Regions from separate parts of the Homo sapiens genome. Here region 1 is linked to region 2. Evidence: fine-mapped expression QTL. Tissue or cell type: adrenal gland. Region 2 holds a variant in brackets; the other region holds the start of a gene. All regions are shown on one strand. Distances are between the middles of the regions.

Region 1 (5,000 bases), 33 kb after region 2:
CAGTCCTGTAAATAAAAGCAATCATTGAAATGCAAATTGCATCCTTGGCTGCCCGATCCACAGTGGTTGGTTCCTCTCAGGCTGTAATTCCGAGAAGAAAATGTGACTAAGCGGAACCCCCAGGAAGCTCTGCGAGAAAGTGCTTACGGGGCCGTGGGCTCCGGGGGGCTCCGTTAGAGTGGATAAAAACTGTATGAAAGCAGGGAGTGGATTTTAAAACCTGAGCTGCTCCTCCAGTTGGCTTGCAGTGGCTGGCTAGGCTCAAAGCGGTCCCCCAAGGCTGGACAGAGCCCCTTGGAGGCTCCCAGCGTCTCTCTATCCCCATGGGCAGAATGGAAAGGGGGGCTATTTTCCATTTCCTTGTCAACGTCAGGGGAGCTTCTACAAATCAGATCCCATGGCCTCCCACTCAAAACCCTCCAAGGGTTCACTGGTCCAAACAGAATAAACCCTAAACTCCTTTCCATGACCCAAAAGATCATGATCTGGCTGGTCCCTACCATTCCCCTATCCCCACCCCCAAATCTGCCTACAGCTCCAGCCACAATGGCCTTTGTTCAGTTCCTCTAAGCTCATTCCCACCTCCAAGCTTTTGCAGGCACAGTGCCTTCCTCCTGGTTCAGTCTTCCTCCAAGACCTCCCAGCGGAGGGCCCCTCTTCTAGCTGGGCTCCACTCAAATGTCACTCCCGGAACAGTCATCTCAGGTACATACACCCCTGTCACCTTCTTTTACATCACCCCATCTTATTTTCCTGGCCGTCCTCACCCCAATCGGATTTCATAGCCATTTGCTATGGGTTTGTTTAATGTTTGTCCACTCACTTCCCCAGCCCCGGGAGAGCAGGGGTTTTGTCCGTTTTATACAAGGCACCCAGTTCTGTCCCTGGCACGTTTCTTGAAATAACATATTAATCCAGTAAAGATTCTGAGTTTATCTTTCTAACAAAACTGCCTGTCTTGCTGCCTGTGCCCCCAAATGGCGGCTCCTTCCTCCTGGAATCTCCTTCCCTTCCCAACTCAGCTGACCCCTTTCCAGGCTTAGAGCAGGGAGCAGATAGCAAACTGTTCACTCCACAGTCTTAGATACCAAACTGGCCGGGAGGGCTTCCAAACGACAGATGCCAATTTGCATTCTATTTACATGTCATTTGCATGCAGTTTAACTCAAAGCCTGGATCCTCCGCAAGCCCGAGTCCCCACCGAAGAAACTTCTGAATTAAGAAGGTTCCTTGGCTGAAGTGCCGGGGTTTTTGTGCCAGATCCCTCCCCCACTTCTCTTGTCTTTGCGGGGTCCCCCAGGGCTTTCTGGGCTCTGTTCAGGTGCCCCCCGGCCTGGTGCAGTTGGGCGGCCAATGTGGCGCGTGGGCTGGGGCCCCAGGCGGGGACGCCGCTGCCCGCCACACTCCAGGGGCCTTTGTCCGCGCTCCAAGGAGCCGCCCCCTTAGCGAACGGGGGACGGAAAGGGAGGACTGGCTAGGCCTGGGTGTGACAGAGCAAGGACGGAGGAGTGAACCCGCTGCACGGGGGAGATTTCTGGGGCAAGGTCGTTGGCCCCTTCCCAGGCTGTTCAACCGGCTGCCCGGGGCCAAGGCGGGTGCGGGCTCCTCCCGCGCGCTCCCTTTTCGGCCTAAGCGCTAGGGACCCCGGGATGTGTGGGGTCCTTGTGGGGCTGGAAGCCTGTGTCCCCCAAGGAGAGGGGACCGAGAACAGGTCTAGTCCTTATCTCCAGCCTAGCCGCCTCTTCCAGAGGTCCAAGTGCCCCCTGTCTGGAAGGGAAACGCCACTGCCCCCCCCGCCATTGTATGCAGCCGCCCCCTCCTCCCCACCCCTCCCCGTCATTCGTCCCCAGCCCAGGTCTCAGCTCTGCCATCTCCCACCGCCGTGTCCCCCCCTCCCCTTGCTGAGTAATGCGCACTCAAGCCGGCTGCGGGCTTGACCCCCAGCCCCCGCGACAGGTGCGGCTGTTCACCCCCAAAGTCCAGCCCTTGTGCCCCCGGCTGCGTCTGCCCTGTCCACAGTCAGCCCCCAACGCGGCCCCAGGACCAGCCCGCAGCTCCTCACACATGACGAGTCACTAGGACACGGCTGGGCTCCTTTACCCTCCCAGCTGCCCTTCACCTGTGGTCGCCCCCACACCCTCCTGGGAGACTTGGATCTCTACCTGGTCCGGGCACAGTCTCCCTCCCCCCGTAAAGGTCCCCAGATCCTCCCCTCCCCCGCCCACCCCTCTACGGCTCTGCTCTCGTCGCACCGTGGTTCCCCTCGCCCAGATTCCACATCTCCCCCAGCAATAAACTCCCTGGCTTGGGTTGGGGGGGCGCTTAGAAAAACACAAGAAGCGGACCCCCCAATTCTCCCAAATCCACGGCGGGAAAAGTTTCTGGGGTCCCCACAGCGTCCTCCACTGCATCGGCGCAGCTCGCACTTACCGACCCCCGCGGCCCCGCAGCGCCGACGCTCCAGCTGGCCTTCGGCCCGAGTCACATCTCTGCGGCGCGGCCGCGGCCCCCGCTCCACGCACGCCCGCCTGCGGGTCCAGCTTCACTGCAGCGCCTGCCAGAGTCGCTGCCGCGCGAGGCGCCCCCTGGCCCGGCCCGCGCTGCTGCAGCGGCCGCGGCCCCGCCCCCGCCCCCGCCCCCGGCCGGCCCCGCCCCCGGGCCTCCGAGCCCCACCCCCGGTCCCGCCGGCGGTTCCGCGCGGGGCTAGGCGCCGTCTGCATGCACCCCCGGAGCCCAAGCTCGTAGCTTCTAGCCCGGATCTCAGAGACGATTCCCCCGACCTCGTGCCCCCAATTCGGGGACATTCCCCCCACAACGTCAGTGCGCCCGTAAGCAGTCCAGACGAGCCGGGCAACTCCCCAGGGTAGATCCATTTGCGGGAACACTCCCCTAGCCAATACACTTACCGAGGGAGGTATCGCGACCCAGGGGTCCCAGCGCGGAAGCCTTCCTGCCCCCAGGCCACGCTCCAAGGGGGGTTCATAAGCAGTAACTTCCCCGAAACACACCAGCACCAGGTCCAGGACGCAGAGAGGATCGATCCCGCCCGGTGCCTCTCGAAGTCACCAACGCCCCGGTATACACCTAGGCGCACACACACCGCTAGGCCTCCTCCAGGCAGGTTCCTCCTGGACACACTCTTCTCTCTCCTCACTGCCCAACTCCCAGATGTCGTTGTCCGTTTACGCACACTGGGACCAACACCCGCTTCCTTGGCCCCTCGAAACACACACGTCCAGTCGGTGCACCCCTCACGTGGGTCCCTACGCAGGATCGCCACCACCCCTACCGCACACATCACCCACGTACGCACATGTCCACTGCCCTTCAGGGCTCACACACTCAGCGGCCCGGGCCACTGGCCGTGCGCTCCGCAGACGGTCAGGGCACAGCCCGGACGCGTGTCCGCTGGGCGGCCGTGGGACCTGCTTGAAGGAGGGGTCCGGGGCAGCCGTCTCTGAGTCCCCCTCACCCCGTCCTAGTCCTCAGGCCTCTCCGAGGTCGCATTGCTTCGACCAGGCCTGGGAGCTGCGCTCCGGCACCCCATATGGGGCTGGTTCCCTGGGTGACCTTCAGACCATCAAACCCTGGCAGTCTCAGGTGGCCCCCCGCCAAAGCCAGAAACAGACCTTTGAGCAGCATCCCTTCCCTGCACTCCAGATTCTCAGGGTGAGATTTCCTTTCTCCCTCCGCGGTGCGCCCCCCAATCTCTACCCCCGTCGCCGCAACCATCCCAGCCACATAAGACCAAAAGGGATAGGACGGACCCCTGCTCCCCTCTCCCGGGGGCTGCAGGAAGGGGAGATGCAGAACACCTCCTTCTGGGAATAGTGGCAGCCCCTGATCTTTGGGGACCGTGGCCCTTCCAGATACTCCCATCCCTCCCTGCCAGCCTCCCAGTTCCGGTCCGGTTAGGCCACATCCCCCTTGGGCACGCATCTCTGGGATACCTTTTATTATATTCAAGGGAAAATGGAAAGGAAGAACCATAATGGCAGTTTTTCGCCCCACTCCTGGTTTATTTGCATGGATCCTCAGAGCCCAGAACAGTTCCAGGCACAGTAGGCGCTCATTAAATGTTTGCGGGACGACCCAAAGTGTGTTCCCGCCAGACTGCGCAATTGGAAAGTGGATGGGCACTGTCACCTGGTGGCAGCTCTTGGAACTGACGCCGAGATCCTTTTGTCAACGTGGGCAAGTTCACTTTCGTGAGCCACATGTCCTCAACGTCTGCAAAATGGAGATCTTTTTCATCGCACATGCCTATTGGGGTTGTTGTGAAGGTCTAACACGTGCTAACATATAAAGTGCTTCACGCAGGGTCTGGCATGTGGAAAATCCTTAATATGAGCTGATTAACATTGCAGTTACGGTTATATTCCCTTTCCCACTTGTTTTACAGAGGACCCTGACTGTGATGGTCAGTTTCACTTTGGGTGATGATACCACAGGGAGCACAGAGTGAAAATGAAGGAGGACATTGAGTGGCAGGTGCATTCCTTCCCTCCAAAAAGTTCAAACACCCATGGATGATAATAATAACAATAATAGCTGAGTACATAGTGCTTTCTGTGTGCCAGGAGCTATTCTAAGTGTTTTAAATTCTTTAATTCATTTAATCCTCCCAGTTACCCTTTAGGCCAGAGACTGTTATTCTCCCTGTTTTACAGATGGAGACACTGAGGCCAAGAGGGGTTAAGTACTGCCCCGGGGTTAGACGGTTGGCAAAGACAAAATCCAATCCAGGCCATCTGGCTCTGCAGGCCATATTATCCACCAATGGTTAGACTGGTGTCATTTGCTGTCAGGTCAGACATTGTCACAGAGGAACCTCACCTCCCAGGAGAGTTCACTGGGTCTCCAGCCTTGGAGAGAATGGCTCCAGGAGGTCCAGGGAGCCATGTCAGGCTCTCAAGTGCCCAGTTCACTTTGTCTAATGAAAACCAGTGGCTTCCCTGGCTCTATTCCTCACCTGAGAAATGGTCAGTGCACTGCCCATG
Region 2 (7,483 bases):
TATTCCTGCAGTCCACCTGGGGGGAAAGGAAACCACATTTCTTGAGTACCTTCTTCATGTGCCACATACTGGTGCCACCAGTACCACTGGTACAGTGTACCAGGCACTTTGAATGGATCATCTTTAATCTTCATAAGGACTCTGTGAAGTGGAGATTATTATACCTATAGCTCAAATGAGGAAATTGAGGCTGGGGGCAGAGGTGGGGTATCATCCAGCTTTTAAGTGGCAGAGCCAGGATTTGAATACTGCGTCTGCTTGATGCCAAAGTGTACCCTTTTATTAGCAAGCACATTGAGGAGGAAACGTTATTTTCCTAGAAATTTGCTAATCAGAAACTTTTCCTAGCAAACATTTCATAATTATTTCTGTGAATGGTCACCCCTACTAAGGCCACTCCACTTGTGGGTGGATCTCTTGTCACTGTCACCCCACCCTGGATCTGATGATCGGGGAGTTTCCCCTGCAGCTTCTGATTGGCCACTTGACACCATTTCTCATCCTTCCTGCCTTTCTCCCATCTTTGGGCTCTAATTGCAGCAATACTGTTTAGGTGTTGATTACCCTGAGGGTCTTTTTCTTTTGTCTGGTATATTTTCTGGTGATTCTTTTAGAAAGTTTCCCCCAGTTGTATAGCAATACAGGTATACTGTAGAACATTCAGGAAAACAAAAATTCAGCAGTTTCCTTTCAATCATTACATCTATGTTCAGGTTTTTTTTTTTTTTATGTATTTGAGATGCTGGGTTATAACTTAGTTGAGCAATAGATGTAATTTTGGACGTAATGAATGTAATTTTCTACAGGGCAGTTACACTTAAGTGATGTATTATGAAAATCTCACCCAAGAATGAATGTGGAATAGGAGTCACTTGTTCTAAAAAAATAAAAATTTTAAAAAGTAAACTTTTTTTTTTCTTTAGAAAGGCAGGGGCTGGGTGCGGTGGCTCATACCTGTAATCTCAGCGCTTTGGGAGGCCAAGACAGTAGGATCACTTAAGCCCAGCAGTTCGAGACCAGCCTGGACAACATAGTGAGATCCCATCTCTACAAAAAGTAAAAAAAATATTCGGGCATGGTGGTGCACACCTGTAGCCCCAGCCACTTGGGAGGCTGAGGCAGGAGGATCACTTGAGCCCAGGAAGTCAAGACTGCAGTGAGCTGTGATTGCACCATGTACTTCAGCCTGGGCAACAGAATGACACCCTGTCTCTGAAAAAAAAAAAGAAAAAGAAAAGAAAAAGAAGGAATGAAAGAAAAGAAAGGAAGGCAGGGATGATTAAATGAAGGAGCCCAGTTTATATCTGTTAGGCTTCCAGCTCTAACAGACAGAAGCCTCCATGCCCTCGTGCCATCCTTGTACTCCTTGGAGACATGATTAACTTGGTATTGAACAATTTCAAATTTGCATAATGGAAATTTATAGGAAATGTGCTGCACCGTATTTTCCCACTGACATTTCTCCCTGTTTTTACACTTTGCCAAAACATCATGTTTTTATGGCTTCATTATATTACATCACATCAAGGTTATAGGTTGTCAGATACTTAATCATTCCCTGACTTTTGGGCATTTAGGTTGTTCTCAAACTGTTTATGTGGTAGAGGATGCGGAAGTGAACACCTTTGTCTGCGTAACATCATTGTTGCTTCTTTAATCACAGACATTTTTGCTGTCCTGGTGGGAGGCAGTTGTGAGATCTTGACCCTGTAGAGTTTTAAGAGCAGCAGCAGCCAGACAGCTCACAGCGTAACCTTGAGCAAGTTGCATGACCTGTCTCTGCTTCAGTCTCCCTACCTGTAAAACTGGGGAAAATAATAGCACTTAGCTCACTATGACTTCGTATGTGTCAAGGGCTTCATAAGTACCATAGAAGTGTTTGCTTTTATTATTTACCTGGAATCCTAGAAATCGGGAGCTAATTGAGTAAAAGATGAACATTTTAAGGTTTCTCATAGATATTGCTGATTTGGGAGCGTGAGCCAGTCTCCTCCTTGTAACCCCAGGCCCCAGCACGGTTGTGGTCCATAGCTGCGTGGCAGATGGTCATCTATTGAAGCAAGTTCTCCCCGCAGTATGTGAGCATCTCGTGGTTCGTACAATTTCCTGTTGATTTTTTCTGCCTCACCTTCTATACTGTGACCTCTTTGAGGGCAAAGAATATGCCCTAAGCAAAATAATAGCTGGCTGGGTGCTGTGGCTCACACCTGTGACCCTATCATCTTGGGAGGCTGAGGCAGGAGGACTGCTTGAGCCCAGGAGTTAGAGACTAGGCTGGGCAACATAGCAAGACCCTATCTCAACCCAAAATAAAAATATATTAGCCAGGCATGGTGGTGCGTGTGTGTGGTCCCAGCTATTAATACTTAGGAGGCTGAAGTGGAAGGACCATTTGAGCCCAGGAGGTTGAGACTGCAGTGAGCCCTGATTTGCACCACTGCTTTCCAGCCTGGGTAACAGAGCGAGACCTGGTCTCAATAAAAACGCGAATAATAATAGCTGATATTTATCAAGTGCCTAACTCTGGGTCAGAACCAGTGCTGAGCACTTTGCATTTTGCACAGCTTGCCTCTTTTGCTTCTCTCAGCGCCCTTAGGAGGCAGGTGCCATTCTCAACCCTGGCTCACAGTTGACTGAGGCCCTCAGGAAACAGGCACTGTTTCCCAAACTTGCCCAAATCTGCTCTCTTTCCCAAACTTGCCAGATCAAAACACCCACCCACAGCACTGAGGGGGAGGGGATACTGATTCCCAGGCCTCACTCCTGGAGATTCTGTTTCTAAAGGTCTGGGGTGGGGCCCAGGAATCTATATTTTCACCCCAGGTCATCCTTTCATGCTGAGGCCCTGTCTGGACAACATTGTATGAGTGGCCGGATGACCCTGTGGTCCCCAAATTTCCTGTCTTGAGCTTTAGGCATTTTCTTTATCTGTCCTGTGCTGCTGGCTGGGAGGTTTTTCTCTGGGCTGTGAATTGAATTCTCAGTCCTGTCACTCACAGGAACAGGAGAGGATAAGGGCGACCACGAGGAGAAGATGTACTGAGTCTTATTAGTATGCAAGGCCCTTCTTGTCACATTGCCTTTAATTGAAGCTGAAGGGCTGGCGTATCTCTCTCTGGGATTTTCCACTCTCCCAGCCCTTCCGGAACTGGCTGGGCAC[C/T]AGCCTGCTGAGAGGGACAAGGACAGCATAGGGGTGCCGAGGCATCTGTCTGTTGGTGTTGGAAGCCAACCACGATGATGTCTCCGAGCTAAGGTGGAAGCTGCATTCTACAGCATCCTGGCTTACTTCTTCTCTCCTGCCTCTCACCCCTGCTTCCCTCCCCTTTTCCTCCCTCCGCTGATCAAGTACCTACCTGTGCAAGGCTGTGTTCTGCTAAGACCAGGAGGAGGAAGACCACCAAGTCGAGATTTTATCTCTTGCTTAATTTTTAGCAAAGTAGTGCATCCCCAGAGGCAATGACTTTGAACTTCAGCTGCTCCTCGGGGTGTTACTTCTGTATCTGGAACAGGTCTCTATGGTAATAAGATTTTCAATAGGATCTACTGATTTCCTGCCATGATAGGTGAGGGTTAGCTTAGATTCCATCCCTCCCCTCCTCAAAACAGCTAAATCATTCTTTTCCATGCCTTTATTGGTTGGCTTTGTAATTTCAAGCAATACACGAACATACCTATTTCTTTTTACCTTTTGGGGGGTGAAATATGCGTACAACAGTGGCTATAAAACACATATAACAATAAATAAAAACATTTGTGGAGGATCGCTTGAGCCTCCACAAGCCTCCAGAGGCTGCAGGGAGCTATGATCGCACCACTGCACTCCAGCCTGGGCAACAAAGCGAGACCTCTCTACAACATTTAACAAACAAACAAACAAACAAACAAACAGAACACTGTCAACAGTTTTAAAGCTCTTCCCCCATGAAGCCACTTCTCTGACTATCATGATAGCTGTTCTCTTGCTTTTCTTTGGAGCTCTTTTCACGTTTGTATGCATCTCTCAGCATTTAGATTTGCTATAAATAGAATCACACTATATGTATTATTCCGTGCCTCTCATCTTTCCTTCAACTTTTTTTTTTTTTTTTTTTTTGAGATGGAGTCTCGCCCTGTCGCCCAGGCTGGAGTGCAGTGACGCGATCTTGGCTTACTGCAAGCTCCGCCTCCTGGGTTCACGCCATTCTCCTGCCTCAGCCTCCCGAGTAGCTGGGACTACAGGTGCCCGCCACCATGCCCGGCTAATTTTTTGTGTTTTTAGTAGAGACGGGGTTTCACCGTGTTAGCCAGGATGGTCTTGATCTCCTGATCTCGTGATCTGCCCGCCTCAGCCTCCCAATGTGCTGGGATTACAGGCGTGAGCCACCGCACGCGGCCTCCTTCAACATTTTTGAGCTAATCCAAGTTGATGCGTGTGGCTTCGGCTCACTCATGTTCAGTGTTGTATAATCACTGGTCAAGTAGACCACAATTGGTTTATCCAGTCAACTGCTGATGGACATTTGGGTTGTGTCCAGGTTTTGCTATCACGAGCATCCTCCCAGTACACGTATGGAAGGGTTTCTGCAGTGGGATACGGGAGTGGAATCATTTGTATTCACTGTCAGACTCAGTTCCATTTGGTAACGCCAAGCAGTTTTCCAGTGTAGTTGTGCCTCCAGAGATGGTGACCTAATTGTGTAGGGTGTTCAGAAATCCCCAGGTAATTCCACTGGGAGGCTCCACGTCACACCTTGATTTCCAGCCCGTCAACTCGAGATAACACCTCTCGGTCCTCCCCCATGAACAAGGTCCCTAGCTCATTCCTTTCTGCTCTCCTCTGTCAAGATTTCTGAGTGATGATCTAAAGAGATACTAAGGGGCTTTTTCCCAAGCAAGGTCAACACGTAGGGAGTAGGCAACAAGGTTGTCAAGGTATGGACAGGAATTGGGTAAAATACCAGGACAACAGCTTGCAGGTGAATTCTTCCTTCAGGCAGTTGAAGAAAACTAAAGAAAACCCAAGGGCTGGGGAATTCTCCCAGAAGCCAGTCCTTCCCTCCAGCTATTAATTGCCTCCAGCATCTGTCTGTCTGCCAGCTATCTCTCTCTCTCTTTTTCTTTTTTTGAGACAGTCTTGCTCTGCCACCCAGGCTGGAGTGCAGTAACACGATCTTGGCTCACTGCACCCTCTGCCTCCCTTCAAGCGATTCTCCTGCCTCAGGCTCCCAAGTAGCTGGGATTAACAGGCGCCTGCCACCACGCCCAGCTAATTTTTGTAATTTTAGTAGACAGGGTTTCACCATGTTGGCCAGGCTGGTCTCGAACCCCTGACCTCAAGTGACCCACGTGCCTCGGCCTCCCAGAGTGCTGGGATTATAGGCGTGAGCCACTGTGCCCAGCCTGTCTGCCAACTCTCTCTCTAGCAGCTTAAACTGTGAGACTCACAGGCAGCCAGCATGATGTTAATAAGTTGAGGGGAATTCTAGACTCTTCAGGGTCCTACAGTCACGTTTCTTTAAAGGGATTCTAAGCCCCATCTGTGTCTCAACCCTGGCTGAACCTTAGCAACACACAGGAGCTTTACCTAGCTACTGATGCCCAGGCCCCAGGGTAGTTACATCAGAATTGCTGGAGTGAAACCCAGGCACCAATAAATTTCAGAAGCTGACCATGTGATTCTTACAAGCAGCCAGGGTAGAAAACCAGTAATCAGTGGTTCTCAAACTTTAACTAGCATCCATCAGAATCACCTGGAGGCCTTGTTAAACTGTAGATGGGTGGGCTCCACCCCCAGTGTCTGGTTCTCTCTGCCTGGAAAAGGGCCCTGAATTTGCATTTCTAACAATTTCCCCCTATTGCAAATGTCCCCAACTTGTCCCTAGAGACCCAGCCTGATCCATCAGAATCACCTGGAGGCCTTGTTAAAATGCAGATGGATGGGCTCCACCCCCAGTGTCTGGTTCTGTCTGCCTGGAAAAGGGCCCTGAATTTGCATTTCTAACAATTTCCCCCTATTGCAGATGTCCCCAATTTGTCCCTAGAGAGCCAGCCTGCAGGTCTGAAGTTATGCCTGATGCTGGCTGCACTAGTTGACCTGTGTACCTCCCTGGGGGGATCCAGGGCAGCCCCGCTCCATCTGACTGTGCGCACCTCTTCCCAACTCTGTTACGTTGTCAGGCTGCTGGCTTCCAATAGGCTATGGAAATGGCAAATGATACAACTCGGGACTCTCCCCCAATCCCTGGGGAGCTGTTAATCACAGCTAGTGGGACAGTCTTTAGGGAGGTGTGGCGCATCCTTGACTATGAAGAGTCAATGTCATCGTTAGTAGGGTCTAGAAGCACATAGGGTTTTCACTGTGGTTGCCCATAGAGCTTCCATATAAATGGAATAAAAAAGGTATATACCTTGAAAAAATGTTTTAAAATGTCCTGTGACCACAGGCTCCAAGTATTAAAAATATTTTTTTCTGATTTGTGTTGCTAATACAATGATTAGTAGTACGCAAAACCAAATAAATACATGATACAATTTGATAGTTGTCAAACATAGAAAATAAGGAGACTCTGAGGGCCCTCATTTTGAACTGCCTTCTTGTTTGGCACCTGGGGAGTCTTTACACACTGGGCCAGGAATGACAGGAGGGTGGGAAGCTGATGATCTGGAAATTGATTTCCTTTGAATGAACCATGACCAAGAACCCTTGCCCTCAGTTTGAAGACTGCAGGGCTGGTCTGTGTTGCTGAAGGCCCTCATCCCACCTCCATCAGAAAATAACCACAGGGCCAGGCGCAGTGGCTCACACCTGTAACCCCAGCACTTTGGGAGGCTGAGGCGGGTGGATCACTTGAGGCTGGGAGTTCGAGACCAGCCTGGGCAACATTGGGAAACCCATCTCTACTAAAAATACAAAAAGTAGCAGGGCGTGGTGGTGCACGCCTGTAGCTACTTGGGATGCTGAGGCAGGAGAATCGCTTGAACCTGCGAGGCGGAGGTTGCAGTGTGCCGAGATCTTGCCACTGCACTCCAGCCTGGACAAGAGAGACTCTGTCCCCAAAAAAACAAAAAAGTGCATTTCATGGGATGGTGTACATACCCACCTCTTTGCCGCATCTGGCTGGTGCATGCCCTTAGTTGCTGGGAGGTCAGGACGAGGGCAGGTTCACTTGAAACCTCAGCCCTACATAGTAACAAGCTCAAACACCCTTTTTACCAGAACAATGCTCTCCACAAATCATCAGAACCTGTGGCCTGGCTCAAACCACCTTTCAAGACATTCACATATGGGCAAGCAGCACTTGGACACTCCAGACAAAGATATATTAAAAGAGAGGGTCTTTCCAAAAGGATCCCTACTGCACCCACCAAGGGACTGGGTTTCCATATTTAATTGGGGAGAGGCTTTTATCTGTTGGGATTAATTCCCCTTACACACAGAGCCATACCCTGTATGGAGCTAACTTTCCTGTTTGGCAGACACAGGAAATCACCGAGATCAGGTTCT

What was found. PIP is the estimated chance that this variant, and not a neighbour inherited with it, causes the effect.
Region 1: GPRC5B starts here. The variant in region 2 is fine-mapped to the expression of GPRC5B in adrenal gland (GTEx, PIP above 0.99).

What each region holds. Positions count from the first base shown.
Region 1 is chr16:19,882,297-19,887,296 of GRCh38, forward strand. GPRC5B (G protein-coupled receptor class C group 5 member B) reads right to left here and starts at 2,552. Exons shown (of 4, transcript NM_016235.3): 1 at 2,431-2,552. RefSeq lists enhancers at 1-564, 565-1,295 and a silencer at 2,811-3,105.
Region 2 is chr16:19,848,548-19,856,030 of GRCh38, forward strand. All of the region lies in intron 8 of IQCK (IQ motif containing K), which reads left to right. Among named protein-coding and RNA genes, the nearest start is that of GPRC5B, 33 kb to the right of the region's middle. RefSeq lists enhancers at 4,650-5,568, 5,569-6,488. The variant C/T (reference allele first, on the strand shown) is at 3,161.